4 linked regions of the Homo sapiens genome follow. The protein of the gene in region 1 purifies or fractionates together with the protein of each later gene. This does not show direct contact. Each region holds a gene or a part of one and is shown on either strand. Other genes may lie near its edges. The genes, in order: EIF3CL, CLTA, NUDT21 and CLTB.

The links.
Region 2: the proteins of EIF3CL (region 1) and CLTA purify together in Homo sapiens (affinity purification with mass spectrometry, with the first as the bait; one large-scale study listed by BioGRID). This does not show direct contact.
Region 3: the proteins of EIF3CL (region 1) and NUDT21 fractionate together in Homo sapiens (co-fractionation; one large-scale study listed by BioGRID). This does not show direct contact.
Region 4: the proteins of EIF3CL (region 1) and CLTB purify together in Homo sapiens (affinity purification with mass spectrometry, with the first as the bait; one large-scale study listed by BioGRID). This does not show direct contact.

The regions. Positions count from the first base shown.
Region 1 is NC_000016.10:28,399,751-28,406,784, forward strand, and holds the start of EIF3CL (eukaryotic translation initiation factor 3 subunit C-like protein), read right to left. Parts: upstream 4,092-7,034; 5' UTR 4,037-4,091; exon of another isoform or gene 3,988-4,036; intron 3,899-3,987; 5' UTR 3,869-3,898; coding exon 3,768-3,868; intron 1,855-3,767; coding exon 1,789-1,854; intron 1,647-1,788; coding exon 1,457-1,646; intron 1,235-1,456; coding exon 1,109-1,234; intron 920-1,108; coding exon 865-919; intron 737-864; coding exon 627-736; intron 249-626; coding exon 121-248; intron 1-120. UniProt on the Homo sapiens protein: Component of the eukaryotic translation initiation factor 3 (eIF-3) complex, which is required for several steps in the initiation of protein synthesis.
Region 2 is NC_000009.12:36,196,014-36,202,457, forward strand, and holds part of CLTA (clathrin light chain A), read left to right. Parts: intron 1-1,537; coding exon 1,538-1,575; intron 1,576-2,965; coding exon 2,966-3,083; intron 3,084-6,444. UniProt on the Homo sapiens protein: Clathrin is the major protein of the polyhedral coat of coated pits and vesicles.
Region 3 is NC_000016.10:56,428,633-56,431,482, reverse strand, and holds the end of NUDT21 (cleavage and polyadenylation specificity factor subunit 5), read left to right. Parts: 3' UTR 1-2,350; downstream 2,351-2,850. UniProt on the Homo sapiens protein: Component of the cleavage factor Im (CFIm) complex that functions as an activator of the pre-mRNA 3'-end cleavage and polyadenylation processing required for the maturation of pre-mRNA into functional mRNAs.
Region 4 is NC_000005.10:176,404,829-176,411,272, forward strand, and holds part of CLTB (clathrin light chain B), read right to left. Parts: intron 5,996-6,444; exon of another isoform or gene 5,800-5,995; intron 5,476-5,799; coding exon 5,429-5,475; intron 1,881-5,428; coding exon of another isoform or gene 1,710-1,880; exon of another isoform or gene 714-1,709; intron 1-713. UniProt on the Homo sapiens protein: Clathrin is the major protein of the polyhedral coat of coated pits and vesicles.

The sequences.
Region 1 (7,034 bases):
AATGCTAACAGTTGGCTGCTCCAACCTAAAAGGACTCCATGGAAGAATCAATAACCTTCCAGACAATTAAGAGCTTTCCACCAGTTCCAGTGTAACCCTAGGTCCCACTACTTTCCTTACTTTTTAAGAAATCTTGAGGCCAGCGCGGTTTGTTTCCCTTCTTCCTCCTCTGAGTCGGAATCGGAAGATGTGGAACCTGTGTCCCAGTCTTCATCATCTTCGGAATCTTCTGAGTCCTCATCTTCATCCTTAGAGGGAAGAAAAGAGGATCAGCAAGAAGACAGGGAGATTGACTGGTGTCTCCTCCTTACTAACGCATGTTCGAGATTTATTTACATGAGTAGAACAAGAGCAGCTACTCATGGAATCAAGATACCAAGGGCTGGGACTCACCATCAAGTCCCAGAGTGATGCTGCAATTTGGCCGCAGGAACACACACAGCTTCCCCTGGCAGAGCTGGGCCCAGATCCCTGTTTGCCCACTGCTCTGATGTAAGAGGAAGCTTGTTCTCAACTCCACTAAATTCCACCCCTCCCAACCCTAGGGGTTTGAGTCTTGTCTTTTTCCCCCAGGGACTCAGGAACTACCTCTGGCAGGAAATCATCCATCTAACCCTGGCTCTTACATCCATCTTTTTGAGGAACTTGCGACTCTCCCCAGAAGGAGCTTCTGATTTCTTCTTCAAGAAAGTTGCAGCACTGACTCCGTCCTCATCCTCATCCTCATCTGAAGAGCCTAGTGGTAATGGAGGGAGAAAAAGATCCTGAATGTTGAAAAGCCAGACTGGAGGGCAGCCAAGAAACCAGGCGAAGGGCAACACTAACTCTGGACTTCCTATTTGCAACAAAGGTTCTTTGGCTCACCTTCTGAATCCTCCTCATTTTTCTCAGCATCTTCATCCGCAGACTGCTCGGGGTTCTGGACAGAGAGGGAAGTGAGAGAACAATCATGGACGCTGTCCAGCCATCAGCCCACCCCACCCCTCCACCCCAGACAGTTCTGTCATCTTCCTGCTCCAGTCACACCTCCCACTAGCAATTCCATCTTTGGGCCTCAGTCACGGGGTCACTGTTCCCAGTTCAGTAAGTGTGCCTCTAGCCTCCCCACCTGCTTGTAGCTTGTGATATGGGACTCGAAATCACGGTTGTATTTTCGGATCTTCTGACGCAAGGTGCTCAGAGCCTTGGCATTGTTCTTGTTCATCTTCTTCTTCCCTTCCTTATCTTCCCAAAGCTAAAGGGAAGAAGAGGAAAGAAACAGAGAACAGTGATTTGAAACTAAGTAACATTTCCTAAACTCCAGGCTTCTTCTCCACTTTTGAGTCTTGCTATTGGAACACCACTGGTACTACTTATTAACTACATCTGTTAGCTTATTTTTAAAAGATCCTATACATCCCACCACTAAAAGTACAAAACCATGAATAAGTGGTGGTAATAAATATAGGCATCACACCTCATTAAGATAGTCCTCTAGGTCAGCCAGGATGCGGATATAGAACCGGGGGACACCTTCTTTGTCCACAATGCTTTTGGCCTTCCCATATGCTTTTCCCAGGAGCTCAAACTCTTCCAGGCACTTGGTGACATCACGAATCTTCATGGCATTACGGATGGTCCGGATAAGGTTGGTCAGCTCCTCAAACCTGGGTTGGGAGCCCGATACCACATTGAACGTGCCCACCGAGGGAAAACTCACCACTGCTCCCAGAGACTCCTATCACCCAGCCTCCCCACAGCTTCATTGCTCCCAGAGACTCCCATCACCCAGCCTCGCCATGGCTTTACCTCTTGTCCTTGGCACTGCGGACAACTCTCTTGGTATCTTCTTCATCCTCGCTCAGCAACAATGGCCTGTTTGGAAGGAACAGAGGCCATTAACCTCCTTTCCCAGTCTTTCCAAGAGATCCGTATTTCCCTACTCAGGACAGGTAGAACTAAGTAATCCAGGCCATCCACACCACACCCATCCTCTTTTTGACTCCTCCTCAGGGCCACTTCATATACAACTCAATCTTTTAAGTGTACACTAAGTAAGGCCTTTTGCTCAGTGTTGTAGCAACACAAAGATGACATTCACTATCCTCTCAAAAACAAATGAAAGTGCTAATTTACTGTGTAACTAATGACATAGAGACACAAGTCACCACAGAAGTAATGAATAAAAAAAGAGGTAGAGAAAAATGATACTTGAGCTATAATGAACAGAAAAGGCTTTAGGGAGGTGGTACCTAAACTAGATCTTAGCAACATTTCCCAAAGTATGAGAGGCCAACAGCAAGGAGAAAGTCTCAATGGTATTAACACCTCCACTGCTAGTATTTTTCTACGATAATAAGACCAGACCACAGGCTCACAGTCAGCAACAGTATCTCTACTCTTTTTGTTTGTTAAGAGATAAGGTCTCACTATGTTGCCCAGGCAGCCTCCAACTCCTGAGTTTCAAGGGATCCTCCCACCTCAGCCTCCAGAGTAGTTGGGACTACAGGCATGCACCATCTTGCCTGCCTCTTTTCCCTTTTTATTATTTTTTGGATTATTTTAGCGGTGTTTTTTGAGGTGGAGTTTTGCTTTTATCGCCCAGGCTGCAGTGCAATGGCGCAATCTCGGCTCACTACAACCTCCGCCTCCAAGGTTCAAGAGATTCTCCTGCCTCAGCCTCCTAAGTTGCTGGGGTTACAGGCATGTGCCACCACAACCGGCTAATTTTTGTATTTTTAGTAGAGACGGGGTTTCACCTTATTGGCCATGCTGGTCTCAAACTCCTGACCTCAAGTAATCAGCCTCCCAAAGTGCTGGGATTACCGGCTTGAGCCACCTGCCCAGCCTGGATTATTTGGTATTTTATGGCAAATGACACTGGTTTCCACCTGTGGAAGTGATACGAAACCATATGCATATTGGCATATACATGTGCAATACATACTTTTAAAACAGTAGCACAAACGTGGCAGATGTTTAAGAAACACCATTCCAGTGGGGCACAGTGGCTCATTCCTGTAACCCCAACACTTTAGAATGCTGGGCGGGAGGTTCACTTGAGCCCAGGAGTTCAGAACCAGTCTAAGCAACACAGTGAGACACCTTCTCTACAAAAAATTAAAAACAATTAGCCTGCTGCGATGGCGTGCACCTGTAGTCCCATCTACTTGAGAGGCTGAGGTGGGAGGATCGCTTGAGATCTGAAGGTCGAGGCAGCAGTGAGCTATGACCCCTCAAAAAAAGAAAAAAAAAAGGAAAAAGAAAAACCATTCTATTGTTCCAAAGGGTAAAAAAAAAAAAATTAATGTACAGAAATGGCGGATGGGTATTTACGTAGAGGTGAACAGGCATATAAAATGTTTAAGCACCTGCGTACACAGCAGGTGACCAGACTTCAGAGTCGCATCAGGGGGCTCCCAGATACCAATCAAGCATTTTGCATTTCCTTCTGTGAGCAGTGAGAAGTCACTAAGGACTTCTCGGCGGTAAAATGAGAGGAGACAGGTAGAGGCTGTAGACTTAAGGCCAGTTAAGAAGCTGATGCAACAGATCTGGCTTGGGAAACCTCTGTGATTCTATCCCTTGTGCCTGGTGGGTGGCTACCGGCTATCACAGCCCTCTAAGGCTGTCTCTCTCCAACACCGCTCCGATCCTGCAAACTCTGGTCATTGTCCAAACCCACTCTCCCCGCCCTCACCTCCATCCCCTCCCATGTGCACTGCGTTCCACAGCCTGCCTAACCCCGCACTCCCAGAATGGTCACAGCCACAGCCCCCGCAACTCACTGTTTGCCATAGTTGCCTCCGACAGGTTTGGTGACGAGCTCCTCCCCGGACAAGGACGACTCGGACTCGCTGTCCGAACCGGTGGTGAAAAACCGCGACATGGCGACGGCGCGGAGGTGCTACGGCCGGACCTGCGGGGGAGCCAAGGCGTCACCGGCCACGCGAAGAGGCCCGAGCCAACACCTCCCGACGCCCAACCCCTCACCGGCCCCACCCGGACCTCGACCTGGGTCTCCCACCACGAAGCACGAGGCCCAAAAAATACCAACCAGCTGAGCCCGCGAGTCACACCGCAGGGCCCTGACAGCGGAAACGCCGAGAGAGAAGGCGGGTCCTCGCGTCACTTCCGGGAAGCGCCGACTAACTACACTGGGAGACTACAACTCCCAGTGGCCTTCGCGCCATAAGGGGGCGGGGACAAGCCTGAGGGAACCGGGCGCTGAGACCTTGGCTGCAGGCGTCGCGAATCCTACCGCGCGTTGGTGTCGGGATTTAAAACACGAAGATCGGCGGGGCGCAGTGGCTCACGCGTGTAATTACAGCATTAATAGGCATTAATAGTATAGAAGTAGATAATCCTGCCGGGTGCGGTGGCTCACTCACGCCTGTAATCCTAGCACTTTGGGAGACCGAGGCAGGCGGATTACCCGAGGTCGGGAGTTCGAGACCAGCCTGACCAATATGGAGAAACCCCATCTCTACTAAAAATACAAAATTAGCCAGGCGTGGTGGTGCATGCCTGTAAGCCAAGCTACTCGGGAGGCTGAGGCAGGAGAATCGCTTGAACCCGGGAGGCGGAGGTTGTGGTGAGCCGAGATCGAGCCACTGGACTCCAGCCTGGACAACAAAAGCGAAACTCCATCTCAAAAAAAAAAAAGTAGACAATGCTAGCCAGGCACAGTGGCTCACTCCTGTAATTCCAACACTCTGGGAGGCTGAGGTGGGTGGATCACCTGAGGTCAGGAGTTCGAGACCAGCCTGGCCAATATGGCAAAACCCCGTGTCTACTAAAAAATACGAAAATTAGCCTGGCACAGTGTCACCTGCCTGTAATCCCAGCTACGTGGGAGGCTGAGGCTGGAGAATCACTTGAACCCAGGAGGAAGAGATTGCAGTGAGCAGAGATCACACCACTGCATTCCAGCCTGGGTGACAGAGCAAGACTCTGTCTCAAAAAAAAAAAAAAAAAAAAAAAAAGTAGACGATGCTAGATCTTGCAGGTCTTTATAGGCCTGTGGTTTGGAGCCGCCATCGGCAGAGGTTTTAGTGCAAGGGACTGTGTTACATTTTTCAAGGTGGTTTTGATATGGGAGCGGGACAGGGAAGTGCTGGGAAGGGAAGAGCATGCTCTTCCAAAGTGCTGGGATTATAGGCATGAGCTACCACACCTGGCCGTTTTGTTTTTTATTGTGAAATATTTCAACAGACAAGAATAAAGACTATTCCAATGGACATCTATGTACTCACAACCCACCCAGCACCGTCAAAACTTAATATGAGGCTGGGCATGGTGGTTCATGCCTGTAATCCCAACACTTTGGGAGGCAGAGGTGGGCAGATCACTTGAGGTCAGGAATTCGAGACCAGCCTGGCCAACATGGTGAAACCCCATCTCTACTAAAAATACAAAAATTCGCCTGGCATAGTGGCAGATGCCTGTAATTCCAGCTACTCAGGAGGCTGAGGCAGGAGAATTGCTTGAACCCTGAAGGTGGAGGTTGCAGTGAGCCAAGATCGTGCCACTGCACTCCAGCCTGAGCGACAGAGCAAGACTCTGTCTCCAAAAAAAAAAAGTTAAAAAAAAAAACCAAGGGGTTCATTGTACGTCTGTAAATCCATAAATATCTTTTTTTTTTTTTTTTTTGAGATGGAGTTTTGCTCTTGTTGCCCAGGCTGGAGTGCAATGGTATGATCTTGGCTCACTTCAACCTCCGCCTCCCAGTTTCAAGCAATTCTCCTGCCTCAGCCTCCCAAGTAGCTGGGATTTACAGACGTGCACCACCACATCCAGCTAATTTTTGTATTTGTAATAGAGAAGGGGTTTCACCATGTTGTCCAAGCTGGTCTCGAACTCCTGACCTCAGGTGATCCACCCGCCTCGGCCTCCCAAAATGCTGGGATTACAGGCGTGAGCCACCACGCCCAGCTCTCTTTATTTTAAATAATATGTGTACATTTTTACAAAATGAAAATGGTACAACAGAATACACAGGAAGAAAAAATATACAGGAAAAAATGTTTCCTTCCTGCCCTGACCTCATGTTCATCAGCTTTTCTCTCTAGAAGCAAACACAATTGTCAGTTTATAGCGTTATCTTCCAGATGTCACTTTGTGCCCTCTCTCTCCGTATCTCTCTTTGTGTATACACACACACACACACACATACACACACACACACAGAGTTGACTCTTGAAGAATGTGTAGGTCTACGTATATGTGGATTTTATTCAATAAATACAGTCAATCCTCCATACAGGTGGGTTCCACATCTGGAACGAAATGTCAATCAAAAATAACAGTATTCACTGGATTTGAAACCCATGTATACCAAGGGCCCAAATTTTGTAACTACAGGTTCCACAGGGGCAACTGCGGGACTTGAGTATGTACAGGTTTTGGTATCTCCCAGGAATCCTAGAACCAATCCCTTGAGGATACCAAGAAATGACTAGATAGAGACAGAAAGGATATAGATAGATGTATTGTATGTGTGTATGTATATATATATGTGTGTGTGTATATATATATATTCAATATATGTATATGAATTATATAGATCAGGGTATGTGTGTGTGTGTGTGTGCGTCTACCTGGAACATATCTGTCTCTACCATTGTTTCCTGCATCTTATTTCATTATTCATCATATATCTTGCAGCTCATTCTGTATCAGTGCATATGGCTCTGTCTCATTCTCTTTTTTTTTGTTTGGTTTTTGAGACAGAGTCTTGCTCTGTCGCCTAGGCTGGACATAATCTTGGCTCACTGCAACCTCCGCCTCCTAGGTTCAAGCGATACTTCTGCCTCAGCCTCCTGAGTAGCTGGGATCACAGGTGCCTGCCACCACACCTAATTTTTGTACTTTTAGTAGAGATGAGATCTCACCATGTTGGCCAGGCTGGCCTTGAACTCCTGACCTCAAGTGGTCCGCCTGCCTTTGCTTCCCAAAGTGCTGGGATTAAAGGCATGAGCCACCACACCCAGCCTGATTGCCTTTTAAAAGTATTCATAATAGGCTGGGTGTGGTGGCTCACACCCGTAATTCCA
Region 2 (6,444 bases), on another chromosome or scaffold:
GCCTGTAATCCCAGCACTTTGGGAGGCTGAGGTGGGTGGATCGTCTGAGGTCAGGAGTTCGAGACCATCCTGGCCAACGTGGTGAAACCCCCGTCTCTACTAAAACTACAAAAAAAATTAGGTGGGCATGATAGCTCACGCCTGTAGTCCCAGCTACTCAGGAGGCTGAGGCAAGAGAATCACTTGAACAACCCAGGAGGTGGAGGTTGCAGTGAGCCAAGATTGCACCACTGTACTCTAGCCTGGGCAACAGAGCAAGACTCTCTCTCAAAAAAAAATAAAATACATATCCTGTGATCCAGCAATTCCTTTTTTTTCTTTCTTTTTTCTTTTTTTTTTTTTTTATTTTTTGAGATGGAGTCTCGCTCCGTCACCCAGGCTGGAGTGCAGTGGCGCGATCTTGGCTCACTGCAACCTCTGCCTCCCGAGTTCAAGCAATTCTCCTCTTTCAGCCTCCTGAGTAGCTGGGATTACAGGCTCATGCCACCACCCTGGCTAATTTTTGTATTTTTAGTATATGGAGGTGGGTTTCACCATGTTGGCCAGGCAGGTCTTGAACTCCTGACCTCGAGTGATCCTCCCACCTTGGCCTCTCAAAGTGCTGGGATTATAGGTGTGAGCCACCGCGCCCAGCTGTAACCCAGCAATTCTACACCAAGAAATTTATTACAGAGGCGAAATTGAATATGCTTCCCCCATGCTTTCACTAGTTTGATAAACTTCATATTTCCAAAACTTTATAGAGTGCTTAAAAAACTACATAGGTAGGTGGCACATGCCTTAAAGTGGTAAAAGGCCACTGACAAACTATAAGAAACTCATTTTTGTACTGACATATAGGAGTAAAAGTCAACTAGGAAAATTAAGAAAAATATGAGAGGCCAGGCATGGTGGCTCATGCCTGTAATCCAATACTTTGGGAGACCGAGGCGGGTGGATCGCTTGAGTCCAGGAAATCGATAGCAGCCTGGGCAGCATGGCGAAACCCCCTTCCTACAAAAAAATAGAAAAATTATCCAGGCGTGGTGGCGCATGCCTGCAATCCCAGCTCCTGTGGGGACTGAGGTGGGAGGTTCGCTTGAGCCCAAAAGGTCGAGGCTACAGTAAGCCATGATTGGGCCACTTTGCTCCAGCCTGGGCGACAGAGCAAGACTGTCTCAAAGATGAAGCTGCAGGTCTCTGCTCACTATGGGTGATTCCAGGCCACACTTTTTTTTTTCCCTCATGCAGAATTTTCATAGAGAAACACTGTTCTCTTTCTGCTAGTCTTCCATTTGTTACCACTGTAAAATAGAAAACAGAAAATAAAATCAAAAGCTTTTGGACTTGGGAGCTTAAGGACAGATGTGTACACATTTTGGTGAAATTTGTATATAAGCACATCTTGGTTTTATTTGTTGTATATAGCACCTACCACAGGGATAGCATTTAGTAGCTCAAGGTTCATACAGCATATGATGCTGTATTCTACTGTACAACCCTTTGGCCCAGTGTTTGACCAGTCCTTATTGATAGACCAAAATCTTATGTCTTGCAGATGCTGTTGATGGAGTAATGAATGGTGAATACTACCAGGTACAGAGTACTCTGATTCTGTTCATTGATAGTGATTGAGAATCTTCCTTTCCTGTGATTTTAATTGACTGACCTAGAAAGAAACCCCAGTCCTTTGACTTTCCTGAATGTATTACTGGCTGGTGTGTTATCTACCAAAGTGGAAAGATTTAAAGAGAGGTAGCATTGATAAAAAGAGAACTGTTTAAAAATGTTATTTACCTGCCCCTAGTGTTATCACCTTTATTCTAAAGAAATCACCATTCAAATGATACTGTGTTGAGTGCAGTAAGTTAATACTAATACTTTAAATAATTCTCCTTCCATCTTTGTTTATAGTCTGATTAGGTTAACCTGGTAATATTAATATTCCTTAGTTCAGTGAGTGGCATATGGAATAATTTTGTAAAGATTAACATTTATTTGAGTCTTTTTTTTTTTTTTTTTTTTTGAGACAGTCTCACTGTCGCCCAGGCTAGAGTGCAGTGGCACGATCTTGTCTCATTGCAACCTCCACCTTCTGGGTTCAAGCGATTCATCCACTTCAGCCTCCTGAGTAGCTGGAATTACAGGCGCATGCCACCACGCCCGGCTAATTTTTTGTATTTTTAGTAGAGATGGGGTTTCGCCATGTTGGCCAGGCAGGTCTTGAACTCCTGGGCTCAAGTGACCATCCCGCCTTGGCCTCCCAAAGTGCTGGGATTACAGGCGTGAGCCACCGCACCCCGCCAGAGCCACCGCAACCTTGGCTCACTGCAGAACCCGTTTCTAACAACAATGGCGGCTTTTGTAAAATGTTAAAGGATTACCTTAAAAGCAACAACACAGGCCGGGCACGGTGGCTCACGCCTGTAATTCCAGCACTTTGGGAGGCTGGGGTGGGTGGATCATTTGAGGTCAAGAGTTCGAGACCAGCCTGGCCAACACAGTGAAACCCGTCTCTGCTAAAAATACAAAAATTAACCAGGCGGTAGTGGCATGTGCCTGTAATCCCAGCTACTGGGGAGGCTGAGGCAAGAGGAGAATTTGCTTGAACCCGGGGAGTAGAGGTTGCAGTTGGCCAAGATTGCGCCACTGCACTCCAGTCTGGGTGACAGAGTAAGACCCTGTCCCGTCCCCCCTTCCCCCACCCCAGAAAAAAAAAAAAAAAAAAGCAACCACATAGGCCAGGCGCAGGCACCTGTAATCTCAGCTACTCGGGAGGCTGAGGCAGGAGAATTGCTTGAACCCGGGAGGTGGAGGTTGCAGTGAGCCGAGATCGTGCCACTGCACTCCAGCCTTGGCGACAAGAGTGAAAACTCTGTCTCAAAAAAAAAAAAAAAAAACAGAACCAGGGGTTCTAACTCAGGTGAAGTGCATTTTAGGAAGGAATTTTTGGTATTAATATAGCACAATTGTGTTTTGTGTTAAGGAAAGTAATGGTCCAACAGACAGTTATGCAGCTATTTCACAAGTGGATCGATTGCAGTCAGAGCCTGAAAGTATCCGTAAATGGAGAGAAGAACAAATGGAACGCTTGGAAGCCCTTGGTAAGGAATCCCTTCTGTGTTTTGGTGTCTGTTTTCAGTGGAGTAGTTGAGCTGGACTCTACTTTTATTCCTTTTTAGCTCACATTAACCAGTGTCATTGTCTGGTCTTTGGGAAGATATCTTCTCAGCCTGAAGGTTACAAGGCTACCTGCACAGAGATGCCTAATCACAGGCCATTGTGTGAGGAGTAGGGTAGCCGGAGATCCCCAAGATCCTCTCACAGGAAGAGCATAGTGATGCTGCTCCTGACCTCAAGAGTAGCCTCAGGTGGTGTTTATAGAGTGCTTTATAAACTTGAAGGATTCAAGTTTCCTATGTCCGTGGACTTTAACAGTCCATTTTTCTTTTTTCTTTTTTCTTTTTTTTTTTTTGAGATGAAGTCTCACTCTGTTACCCAGGGTGGAGTGCAGTGGTGCGATCTCGGCTCATTGCAAGCTCTGCCTCCCGGGTTCACACCATTCTCCTGCCCTCAGCCTCCTGAGTAGCTGGGTCTACAGGCGCCCGCCACTACGTCCCGCTCATTTTTTTTTTGTATTTTTAGTAGAGACAGGGTTTCACCGTGTTAGCCAGGTTGGTCTCGATCTCCTGACCTTGTGATCCACACACCTTGGCCTCCTAAAATGCTGGGATTACAGGCGTGAGCCACCGCGCCCGGCCTCCATTTTTTATTTGAAGGCTAAATGAATTTAAAGTAACACGAGGAAAATGAGGTATGTTAGGAAAAAATGTACAATTTGTTTTTCCTACCTTAATATCTCTGTAAGGTAAGTTTTACAATTTTACAGGTAAGAAAAGTGGAGGAGAGGTAGAATAAGTATTTGGAATACTCAGCTAAGGAATGGTAAGAGTCACAATTTCAGCTGAAGTCTGCCTTGCTTCAAAGTCACTACCCATCCCCATCAGCCACATTGCTTTCTAAACATTTAATGTGCGTGGCCATCTAGCCACACAGCCTGGCCTTTGATAAAGAGATGTGTACGTGGAGTGTCACCTGTTGGTTCATGATCAGGGGAGACTTGTGTCTGTACATGGTGGATTGGAGAAGTATGCAGAGTGTGAGGATATAATCCACATTGTGGCCTTTTCTTTGTTTTTTCTTTTTCTTTTTTTAATCAGCTGACTTTAAGATTCATCTTTTCTCAACTTTACAGAACAATTGAAAGGAGGAAAATAAACATGTGCACCCCCAGATTCAGTAATTAATGGATTATCTTTATATAAATGATATGTTTTAGACATACACACACACAAATTGTTTTGGCTGACCTACTTTAAGATAAAGACATCATATACTTTGTGTCTAAATATTTCAATGTACACCTCCTAGAAATAATGACATTCTCCTATGTAACCACAACGTCAGCAGTATTATTCCCTCTTGGGAACTGTTGAACTAGTGAAAACATGAGTCCTTATTTTTCAGATGGGATAACTGACACCCAGAAATAGGAAGGGACATGACCCAGATGACACAGCCAATTAGTGCCAAATCATTTATCTCTCTAGTCCAATTTAGGTGGCTTTCAGAACAAAGAATGCACTTAGTATTTGAACCTTTATAGCACCATTCATTAGTGATTTCTTTGGTGGAAATATTCTGTATCTGTGCTGTCTCGTATGGTAGCCACTAACCACATGTAACTGTTAAGTACTTGAAGTGTGGCTTCACAATTCAAGTGTGACTGAGAAACTGAATTTTAAATTTTCTTTAATTTTAATAAATTTACATTGAAGTAGCCACATGTAGCTAGTAGCTACCATATTGGACAGTGGAGCTGTAGGAAGATGAAAATAGGTCCTAACAGCTTTGGTCCTTGCTTGTTCTTTGTGTCTCTTGAGTATGCTTAGAGGCAAGATTTAGCTGGTCTTAGTACTGCTGTAGTATTTTTCATGTTACAGAACCCAAATTTATCTTTTCTGTTTTACCAAGCTCTAGCAGTTTTTCTTCTCCATGGAGAGAGTCTACTTTGGTGTCTGGAAAGATTTAATTTTTCAATTATGAAATTGGGTACTTGGGGAATACTCTTATGAGCTGTTTTCTTAATTCAAAGTGCTTTTTTTGAGAGAAGTACAACATTTGGCCTTGCATTCCAACTGAATTGAATTCACTTGGTTCATGAACAAGGTGTTCCTTCAATTTCACCTTTTTTCCTTGCAAAAACTGTGAGAAAGCACGCGATGCTAAAAATAGAGAACCGGTGCCAGTGGTTTTCAGCCTAGCTGCTGGCTACATTCTCAAGTAATTTTCTTTTCTCTGACCAGTAACGAGGGTGGCCAGAAGGGAAGGCACCTGTGAATGTGCTTTGCTCTCTAAGGGGACTCTTCCTCTTCATCCTCTGAGGGGAAGAATTCTAAATTAGTATTGCAGTGGCACTAAAGCTGCAAAAGCCAGAAGACCAATTTAAATGTACTATTTTATGCAGTAACCACAGTCTGTTCAGGAGGTCACCATTTTTATTTAATTTCATTTTTCAGAGATAAATTTTATATTTTAGTCCTAATGTATAGTAAATGTTAACATCAAAATACATTGAAAGAAAATACTGTCCAATCAAAAAGGTAATTATTTGGAAGTAATTTCACCATGATTGAAAAGGGGGCCTTACATTTTGAATTAGGTATTGTCACATGGCACTTCCAGCCCACAGCTTCTCATTGCAGCATAGCTAAATCTTGCATTCCACATCTGTACTTCATGCCATGGATAGACACATATTAGATGTTTACTGTAGAGGCTAGGTGGTGTGGCTCAGGTCTGTAATCCCAGCACTTTAGGAGGCTGAGGTGGGAGGATCACTTGAGCTCAGGAGTTCAAGACCAGCCTGGGCACCATAGTGAGACCCTATCTCTACTAAAAAAAAAAAATTAGCTGGGGGTTGTGGTGCACGCTTGTGGTCCCAGCTGCTTAGGAGATTGAGGTGGGAGGATCACTTGAGCCTGGGAGATTGAGGCTGCAGTGAGCTGTGATAGAACTACTGCAGTACAGCCTGGGCTACAGAGCGAGACCCTATCTCAAATAAAACAAAAAAAAGTTTACTGTATATACTTTAGAGTCATCAGTGAAAAATCTGAGAAAATGATTCTTCTGAACGACAGATCACCTTCCGACAAATTAGATACCGAGATGAACGTTCCTACTAACCTGAAACTTGGGGGAGTTTCTAGCTGCTATTAGGCTTTTTCTTATAGTTACACACAGCCTTTTGCAGGTTGTTACTATAAGACCTTTCTTGCAAAGGCCCTAAAAATGCCCAAGAATACTTCATTTTTCATCCCTTCTAGTAGTTACTTGACACCGCTACTGCTATCTACTCTCCTTCTCAAAGACACTAATTACAGTTTGGGCTCTTGGTCTGCACTT
Region 3 (2,850 bases), about 28 Mb from region 1:
GGTGATGTCAAAGGTATATGATACTTGAGGAAATCAGGCCAAGTGTAGCTGAGCAATTAATAAACACTCAAGTTTTTTTAGTTGGGGTCATGTCAAACCCTCACATGGTGGTTAAGTAGTGACTAACTGTGCATGTCCTTCATGGTAGGTGAGCACCAGTCTCCATGATCAAAAATGCCCCAGTTTCCTTTGAAAAAGCCACTAGTTCTGTGAATTGTCCTTTTCCCTCCTGCCCCTAACAGTCCTACCCCTCTAGCCTACATTAGCATATTTCTCATGTAATGTATTTTGCTGGTAAGCTCATCCATTAGCTGCGTCCTTCAGCTATTCCTTTAGATTGGAGGAAGTGGATATGAAGATGGATTGATTCAGCTCACCTTCCATGATTGCTTTTGAGGGAAAAGCTACAGTGGCCACATTTCAGATGTTCACTTTTGCAATTTGTGGAGGGTGGAGAGAGGTAGACTTTTGTTGTGTGTTTTATAAAGTACTCTCAGTAAGGAGTGTTTGAGTTGAAGAGTCATCTGATTCGAGGCCACTCATGTTCTTTGTAACTTAAACTTTGACCAAGAAATTCTTCACTTCTCACTTCTTCACTTCTTCCCAATATACAGTAAGTACGTGAGCCAGTCATCCATACACTAAGGCCTAGTTGAGAAAAACCTTTGATTCAGGATGGCTGGGTTACTAACCTTGAAATGTAAGAGATCTGGTTTTGAATGTAAAAGTTGCAACACACAAACGGAAGTCTTAAAAACTTTTTGCTCTGGTCAGTTACAGGTGGATCCCCAATAATCTGTTTTTGGTTTTCTGATGGAAATAATAGAATTAGGGGAAATCAAATCTGGTTGGTAGGTGTCTACAGTATTAGAAGAGGGTATAAGGGCACTGTTTAACACTAAGTTCTAATACTTCCAGAAACTGTGCATTCCAGATCTACATACTAAATGCTCTTATCATTTTGAAATGGGCTCTTGATTAATAGACCCATATTTTTTAGTGGCTTCTATGTTGTATATTTGTCTAAAATGAAAGCTCTTTTGCGTTCTAAAACTACAATATATGTCATCTTATTTTCCCTGAGTATCCAAGTATAGTGCAGATTCTATGTAAAACTACTAAATGACACTGGAATATGTTTAGTAGATTAGGGGGAAAAACTATAAAGGTTTATACAATTGTTTGTAGTTACATTTAGGATGGACTTATCCCTTTGGAGAAGAGTGAAGTTTGTTTTTTCGCCATGTGATGAAGACCACTGTGATTTTTTAAAAAAGTAGATAATACTTAAAATGGCGTAATAATTCTGCACTTGAATTTGTACTGTTAACAGCACATTTGGAAGATTTTAAAACTTTTTATTGTCTTATAAATAGCATTCACTTATTATTTTGGATATTTAAGGGTTCCATTAAGTTAACACTGTATTTGGACAAAGTGTGACCAAATTAGCCAGTCTGTTTTCTTCCATGTTTAATTAGAAGTGAGAGGTAGAAGTACTTCAAATTCAACAGGCCAGCAAGCAATCGGCTTAAAATTCCCTTTCTTAAATGTTGTGCTCTTATGTTCTCGGCTTTTTAATGACTTTATTTTTACAGTACTTGTTCAGTCACTTGAGATGAAATGCTTGGGGTAGCTTTTCCATCCTCAAACTTAATGTTTTTACTAGTTCATAGTGTTTGGAACAGTATATGCCAATCACTGAGACTGCATCAGAGTTTGCAATTTTGTATGTTTCATTGCCAAAGAAGGCTTAGTGGTTGTTGACTGTAGTATAAGTCAGCTTTCTGTAGCATAAGATTTGATTTTCCCATACTTACTTCACTTGTTATACATCACTGATTATTTGGGTTAAACTGGACTCATTTCAAGCAGTTTGCTTTTGTTCAAATCGTGATGAGAAACCTAATACTGTAATTTGATTTGAGCCATAAAACACATTTTAATATTAGCTTGTATTATAGTTATTAAGCTTGTTTTTGTGGAAAAAAACTTACTAAAACCTAGGTAACTCTAGATTAGGCCAGTTCAGGTGTATTTTGTATCTTAGTAATGGATCATATCGTAAAAATAGAGATAAGTTGGGAAGATATATTGATTATGCTGTTCTGTTGAGGGAAAGGTCATGTATTTAGAAATTTAAACTTTTGGTTATTGTGTTCACATCATAGTATTCAAGCATCATTTATAGTTTGGTTTTGAGAACTTTTCTGGTATTACGTTTATGGCAAATGTATAAAAGAAACAAGTTTTGGTTATATTTTTATATTTGTAAAGTAAGTTTGGTTAAAGTGATCACTGTTCTTTTTTTATTTTATTGTCATTTCAATAAAAAATATTTGAAAGAGAATGACTCTGTGATTGTTTTGGGATAGTAGTCCTGTATGTGTGGCTGCTGATCCTACTGTGCTAGTAGAAATCTTGCATGGTTCGTCACTGTGAGTGGCCGAGGGCCTTTAGGTAAGAGACAGCTTAGCATAATAGCAAGGGCCTGATGGCCTGGGTCACTGATGTTGCCCTCTCCTTGTGCCCCACACACTCCCTCCTCCCATTGTGTGTTAGCAGTGTTTCAGTTTCCTGAGGTGTGAAAGGGTCACTAGATTTGGAACATGAAGGCCACAAGTTAGAAGTTGCTACACAGTTGTGTTAACTGTGTGTAGTCCATATCATTGGGGACTGAGTCCGAGTTTCCTCATCTGTAAAGGGAGGGTTGACTCCTTTAGTTTTTTTTCTCAAACTTGCCTGGAATTCATAATGTTCTATGACACACACCATACCTGCTGCATATGTAATACTGTGTAATTCAATGTTATCTTAAATAGAAAGTTTACCCAAAATACGGGAATATAT
Region 4 (6,444 bases), on another chromosome or scaffold:
CTTGGCCTTGGCCAAGGCCACCCACATCCCCCTGGGCAGCCTCAGAACCCCCTGCCAGTGTCCCCTCACAGTTGCATTCCCTAACTTTAGTGCAGGCTCTGGCGCCTGATCCTGGATTCAAGTTTTACCTCTTACTAGCTACACAACTCGAGCGAGCTGTTAAACCTCCTGTATAAAACAGGAATAATGACAACCAACATCACAGGGAGTTGGGAGGACTCAGGGAGATCAAGCACGTAAAGCCCTTGGCTGGTGCCTACACAGAGAAGAACTCAATCTGTTAGCTCCTAATGCTTCCCCAAAGCCAAGCCCTCACCTTCCTGGGCTCCCATTCACTTCTTTCACTTCTTTCCCTGTCTTCTATTAGAAGCGAGTTTGGGACCAGGTGCAGCGGCTCACACCTGTAATCCCAGCACTTTGGGAGGCTGAGCAGGAGGACTGCTTGAGCCCAGGAGCTCGAGACCAGCCTGGCCAATATAGCGAGACCACATCTCCATAAAAAAATTAAAAAATTAGCCAGGCATGGTGGCCCTCCCTGTAGTCCCAGCTATTCAGGAGGCTGAGGCAGGAGGATCACTTAAGCCCAAGACTCAAGGCTGCAGTGAGCCATGATCACACCACTGCACTCCAGTCTCAACTACAGAGCAAGACCCTGTCTCTCAAAAAAAAAAAAAAAAAAAGAAAAAGAAAAAGAAAAAGAAAAAAAAGAGAGCTCTTTGGAGACAAACTATCCAGTGGATTTGCCTCCATATCCGTTTATTCACTGCCCTAGCAGGTGTGTGGCCATAAAAGAATGTGCACTGACCAAATGAATGAACGACCAAACGTATAAACCAAATGAATAAACAAGTAGCTGGGTACACAGGGGCGTGGAGGGCACGGGACGAGCGCTGGACACTCCATCAGAGGGGCTGGGCTTTACATCCCCCTTCTGCCACTCACTGGACTCGCGACCTTTGAGAAGTCCCTTCCCTGGGCAGCTTGGCTTTCAAACCTGTTAAATGAGTGACAATATCCTACTACCGGTGGGAAGTGAGGCTTACGAGATGCTATGGTAACACTCTGCAGCCCATAGAGGGCGTGTGCGTATGAGGGACAGCATGGCTGCTGTGGCCTGCTGTTCCGGTGTGGCAGGGCCCCACACCTGCTGGCCCTCCGTGCACCATGACCAGGAGAGCACAGTGGTGCTGCTGGCAGGCAAAGCCCCGAGAAGCAGTCACCACTCATTATTTCCGGGCTGCTCAGAACTTATTTTCCTGCCCCTGTCCCCACCCCTACCCTTGCCAGTGACAGTGTCACGGGCCACAACTGGGCTCTCGTTTAATCACCTGAGCATCTCAGTGGGGAGATCAGTCATGGCCAGGAGGGTTGGCAACCAGGAGAGATCACCAGCGGCTAGAGCAATGTTCTGACTCCTCCCAAGCTCTGGAGAGAGAAAGGGGCAGGAATGGCCAGGACCAGAAGGCAGGAGGCGACAGTCAGGGCCAGGCTTGTCTCAGTCTAGCTCCCTAGAATCCCTCTCCTGAGGGGCCCCTCTGCTGGGCCCACCCATGAGAACCTCTGTGGACCCACACCAGCCAAGCGTGTGCTGCGACTCCAGGGATGGCCAAGAGGATGAGCCACATCCTTCTTTGGGATTGATCAGCTAAATCTAAGCTAAGCTGAGCTGCTGATTCCTCTAAGAAGCTAAAAGGAGGATGATGGGAGTATTAGGGGAAAGGAGAGAGGATCTGTGCAGAGGTGGGGAGGCGGAGTCCTGCAGGGCCCTTCTGTCCCTGCCCCTGGCTGTGCCAAATGGAACTGGAATAGTTGTGGGCAGGCTCGTCCTTAGGCTGTATTGGCAACTGGGTTTGTAGCTGGACCCGCTGGTGGTGCACGGGCTGCAGAAAAGAGGAAGAAAGGAAGCACAAAAGCTCTGTCTGGGATCCTTGAAAGTGTTGGGTGTGCACAGGCCAAGGTTTCTCCTCCCCCTGCAGGTGCAGGCCAGACCTGCTATGCTCAATCCTAAAGAGCTGGGGCTTTCCACCTGTGACCCAGGCGCTGTGGCCAGCCAGTTCCAGCAACAGAGTCGTAATGCAAAGCACACCGGGTCGGAGCCCAGGAGATGTAGGCAAGCTGGGGCTTTGCCACTAAGCTTCTGAGTGATTCAGCTCATCTGTGACCCTGCCCTGCCTGTAAGGATTCTCGGATGGCACTGATGTGATATGATTTACAAATAAACACACCTGCTGTGATTCTTAGTAACAGTGAGAATAAGAGTTCTCACTCAGATTGGAAAGGAGGCCCCGGGCTCCTCAGATTCACCCACAGCTCACCCACGGCTGACAGGTCGGGAGGGAGAAGGCGGGGGGCCAAGTCAAATGGGGTGCACTCCAGAAGTGGCTGATTTCCTGGGTGACTTTGCATTCACCACTTCACCTCTCTGAGCTTCGTGATGCTAATCTTTAGGAAAGGTAAATGATCCAGCTCAGAGTGTTCTAGGTACTTTCTTTTTTGAGACAAAGTCTCGCTCTGTCGTCCAGGCTGGAGTGCAGTGTGCGATCTCAGCTCACTGCAACCTCTGCCTCTGGGTTCAAGCAGTTCTCCTGCCTCAGCCTCCTGAGTAGCTGGGATTACAGGCAACCACTACCCTGCCTAGCCAATTTTTGTATTTTTAGTAGAGACAGGGTTTCTCCATGTTGGCCAGGCTGGTCTTGAACTCCTGACCTCAAATGATCTACCCACCTCAGCCTCCCACTGCTGGGATTACAGGCGTGAGCCACTGTGCCCGGCCATGTTCTACATACTTCTGTGGTTCCAAGCATATCTCCAGCTCCAGGTGCACTTTAGGACACAGAACTGTGGGGTCAAGCAAAGTCCTTCTGAATGTGGCCAGAGAGCCTGGGCAGCCTAAGTCTTAATGATCTACCAAGCTGCACAGAAGCAAATCCTCATTCTTTGACTCCCTCGGGCCCAACTAGACATGAAGCTGCTGAAGTCCTAGAGATGGACTTTTCCAGCTTGCTGATAGTTGAGTAATTTTCCAGAAACAGGACTTGGCCAGTCTCCCTGCATAAGGTACCAGCCCATCCCTCTTACATAAGAAAATAAGTATTGTTTACTCCCCCAGAGGATTCAAGAAGCCAGCTCCTCCAGGGCGGGGCTCAGAAGATCCCACAGCCAAAGACCCCAGGATCAAGGCTCTTTGGCCCAGTCTGAGTGGGAATGAAGGCTCTGAGGGGAGGTTTAGCCCCACCAGGCATCTGGCTGGGGGGCCGAGGTGAGGACTATTGCATGCCTCTGTGGTCTGAGTTCCCTCAGAGTACTAAAATGGATTTGTGTGTATGCAAGGGGAAGAGAGTTAGGTGGGTGCGGACAGAAGCAGTCTTAACTAGAAATACACTTACTAGGGTTTTCCTCTTTTTTTTTTTTTTAAGACTGTCATGCCGGGCACGGTGGCTCGTGCCTGTAATCCCAGCACTTTGGGAGGCCGAGGTGGGTGGATCACTTGAAGGTCAGGAGTTCGAGACCAGCCTGGCCAACATGATGAAACACCATCTCTACTAAAAATACAAAAGATTAGCTAGGCGTGGTGGCGGGTGCCTGTAATCCCAGCTACTCAGGAGGCTGAGGCAGGAGAATCACTTGAACTCAGGAGGCGGAGGCTGCAGGGAGCCGAGATCGTGCCATTGCACTCCAGCCTGGGCAATAAGAGCAAAACTCCATCTCAGGAAAAAAAAAAAAAAAAGACTCACCCAGGCTAAGTGTAGTAGTGTAATCATAGTCACTGCAGCCTGGACCTCCCCAGCTCAAGCTGTAATCCTCCCACCTAAGACTACTGAGTAGCTGGGACTATAGGCACACACTATTGCCCCAGCTAATTTTTCATTTTTTGCAGAAATGGGGTCTTACTATGTTGCCCAGTTTGGTCTCAAACTCCTGGATTCACATGATCTTCTCACTTTGGCCTCCCAAAATCTGGGATTACAGGCGTAAGCCGCCGTGCCCGGCTGGGTTTTCCTCGTTTTTTGCAGGATAAAAACACTTAAAGAATTTGTAAACAACCCAGTGAAAGTGAATGCCCCTTTCTTATCCCCATCCCACCCCACCCTTGGGGCTAACCATTGTTAACAGCTGGTACACATCCTTTCAGATATGTAGTGCAAACCTTTAGTTTTATTTTTTTGAGATAGAGTTTTGCTCTTGTTGCCCAGGCTGGAGTGCAGTGGCGTGATCTCGGCTCACCGCAACCTCCCACTCCCGGATTCAAGCTATTCTCCTGCCTCAGCCTCCCAAGTAGTTAGGATTATAGGCTTGTGCCACCACACCCAGCTAATTTTGTATTTTTAGTAGAGGTGCGGTTTCACCGTGTTAGCCAGGATGGTCTCAATCTTCCAACCTCATGATCCACCTGCCTTGGCCTCCCAAAGTGCTAGGGTTACAGGCATGAGCCACCACGCCCAGCCCAAACATATTTTTAAAATTGAAAAAAAAAAAAAAAAAAAGGACCATACTGTGTATATTATTCTGCAAGCTGCTTTTTCCACTTAATATATTGTGGACATCTTTTCACGTCAATACAGGAAGATCTGATTGCCCTTTTTTTTTTTTTTTTTTTTTTTTCAGACAGAGTTTCACTCTCATCTCCCAGGCTGGAGAGCAATGGCACAATCTCAGCTCACTGCAACCTCCACCTTCTGGGTTCAAGTGATTCTCCTGCCTTAGCCTCCCGAGTAGCTGGAATTACAGGCACCTGCCACAATGACTGGCTAATTTTCTGTATTTTTAGTAAAGACGGGGTTTCACTATGTTGGCCAGGCTGGTCTTGAACTCTGACCTCACGTGATCCACCCACCTCAGCCTCCCAAAGTGCTGGGATTACAGGCGTCAGCCACTGCACCCGGCCCTGATTGCCCTTTTTAACAACAGCCTGGTTTTCTAATCTATCTATTCAGTTCCCTGATGCTGGACACTTAGGTTGTCTCCAAATTGTCTGCCATTATAAATAACCCTGCAAAGAATCTGGGTGGCCTTGTCCAATTATTTCCTTTGGGAAAATTCTGGAAGTGGAATCTCTGGATCAAAGGGCCCGCCCTGTGTGTGGAGATGGCCTGGGTTCTGCCTCCCGTCAGTGGTGAGGGAAGGCCTTGCGCTGCCTTCATCTCATGCTGCTGTGGGCCACTTGACCTCTCCCTCCCAAAACCAGACATCACCATGGGCAACCTGAGGCTACTGCCCATCAATCTCGATCTCTAGTGGTCCTTATTCTTCTTCCCTGCCCTCTACATGACAAAAAAAATTCCAAAAACCTTTCTCTATGTTTCCACCCCAATGCATCAGACATAATGAACAGGAGAACCTGGAGCTGTAAGCCTACAACAATGAGGCTTTAGGTTACTGAGACCAGGGCTGTTGGTCCTTACCACTGCTGAGACAGAGCCTTGCTTACCTGAAACACATCTCCATTGACTGTGGTCCCCATGTCCTCAGAACCAGCTGGAAAGAGAACAAGGAGATAGCATTACTCACTGTTTAGCTTATAGCAAGCAGGAAATGGTCCTACATTAGCCCCTCAACCCAAACTCTGTGTATACCCATGTATATATCGACCCACATGCAAACAGACATAATGGATATATATATAACTTAGGCTCAATCCCACCCCTGACTGTTTATAAAGCCTCTCACAGCCATTAGTACATTTTATGTTCACCACAGCCCTGCAATGAAATTGTTGTCAACCCATTTTACAGATACTCAAGCTGAGGCTCAGAGAGGCCATGCTCAAAATCACCCAGCCAGTAATAGCTCCTTACCTACCTGAAATCACTGACCCCTGGCCATGGCTGGGAATGGCCAGATTACCTGTGAAGCCTGTGCCTGGTGAGTAGGCTGAGCTGCTGTAAGCTCAGGGCAGGGGCTACACTGGATAAGGAAGAGAGGGGCCTACGCGTCTCTGCCTGTCCCTGAGGCGCCTTGAGCAACTGCTCCTCCTGGGTGAGCAGGAGTTGCAGTTCCCACCAGAAGCACCTGGCATATTTTTTCTCTTTGTGCCCCTCCCAGAAGGAATTAAGTTTGCCCTCAGCAGTGACTCCTCCCTGTCCCTTTCCTTGACATTTGATTAGTCACAAATTCCTGGGGCTTCTGCTACAACACTGACATTCACAGTTGCCCTCCACTCTCTCCCGCAGCTCAGCCCCAGCCCAGGACCTCACCACCTTGCACCTGCACAACTGCTTTGCCCGCTAGGGGCAAACACCTGGGAAGACATAACTGTGTCTCTTTCTCTTCTCCTGTGTCTTTCCCAGAGACTTGCATGCACCTGTGACTTTGCAGGTGCTCAATAATTATTTGTTGAATAAACAAGTAAATACATGCATGAAAGAAAGACAACGACTGCATGGCTTTTGCCCATTCACAGGCCCCCTTGACTCCAGCCTCTCCCATCCCTCTTTCAAACCAATT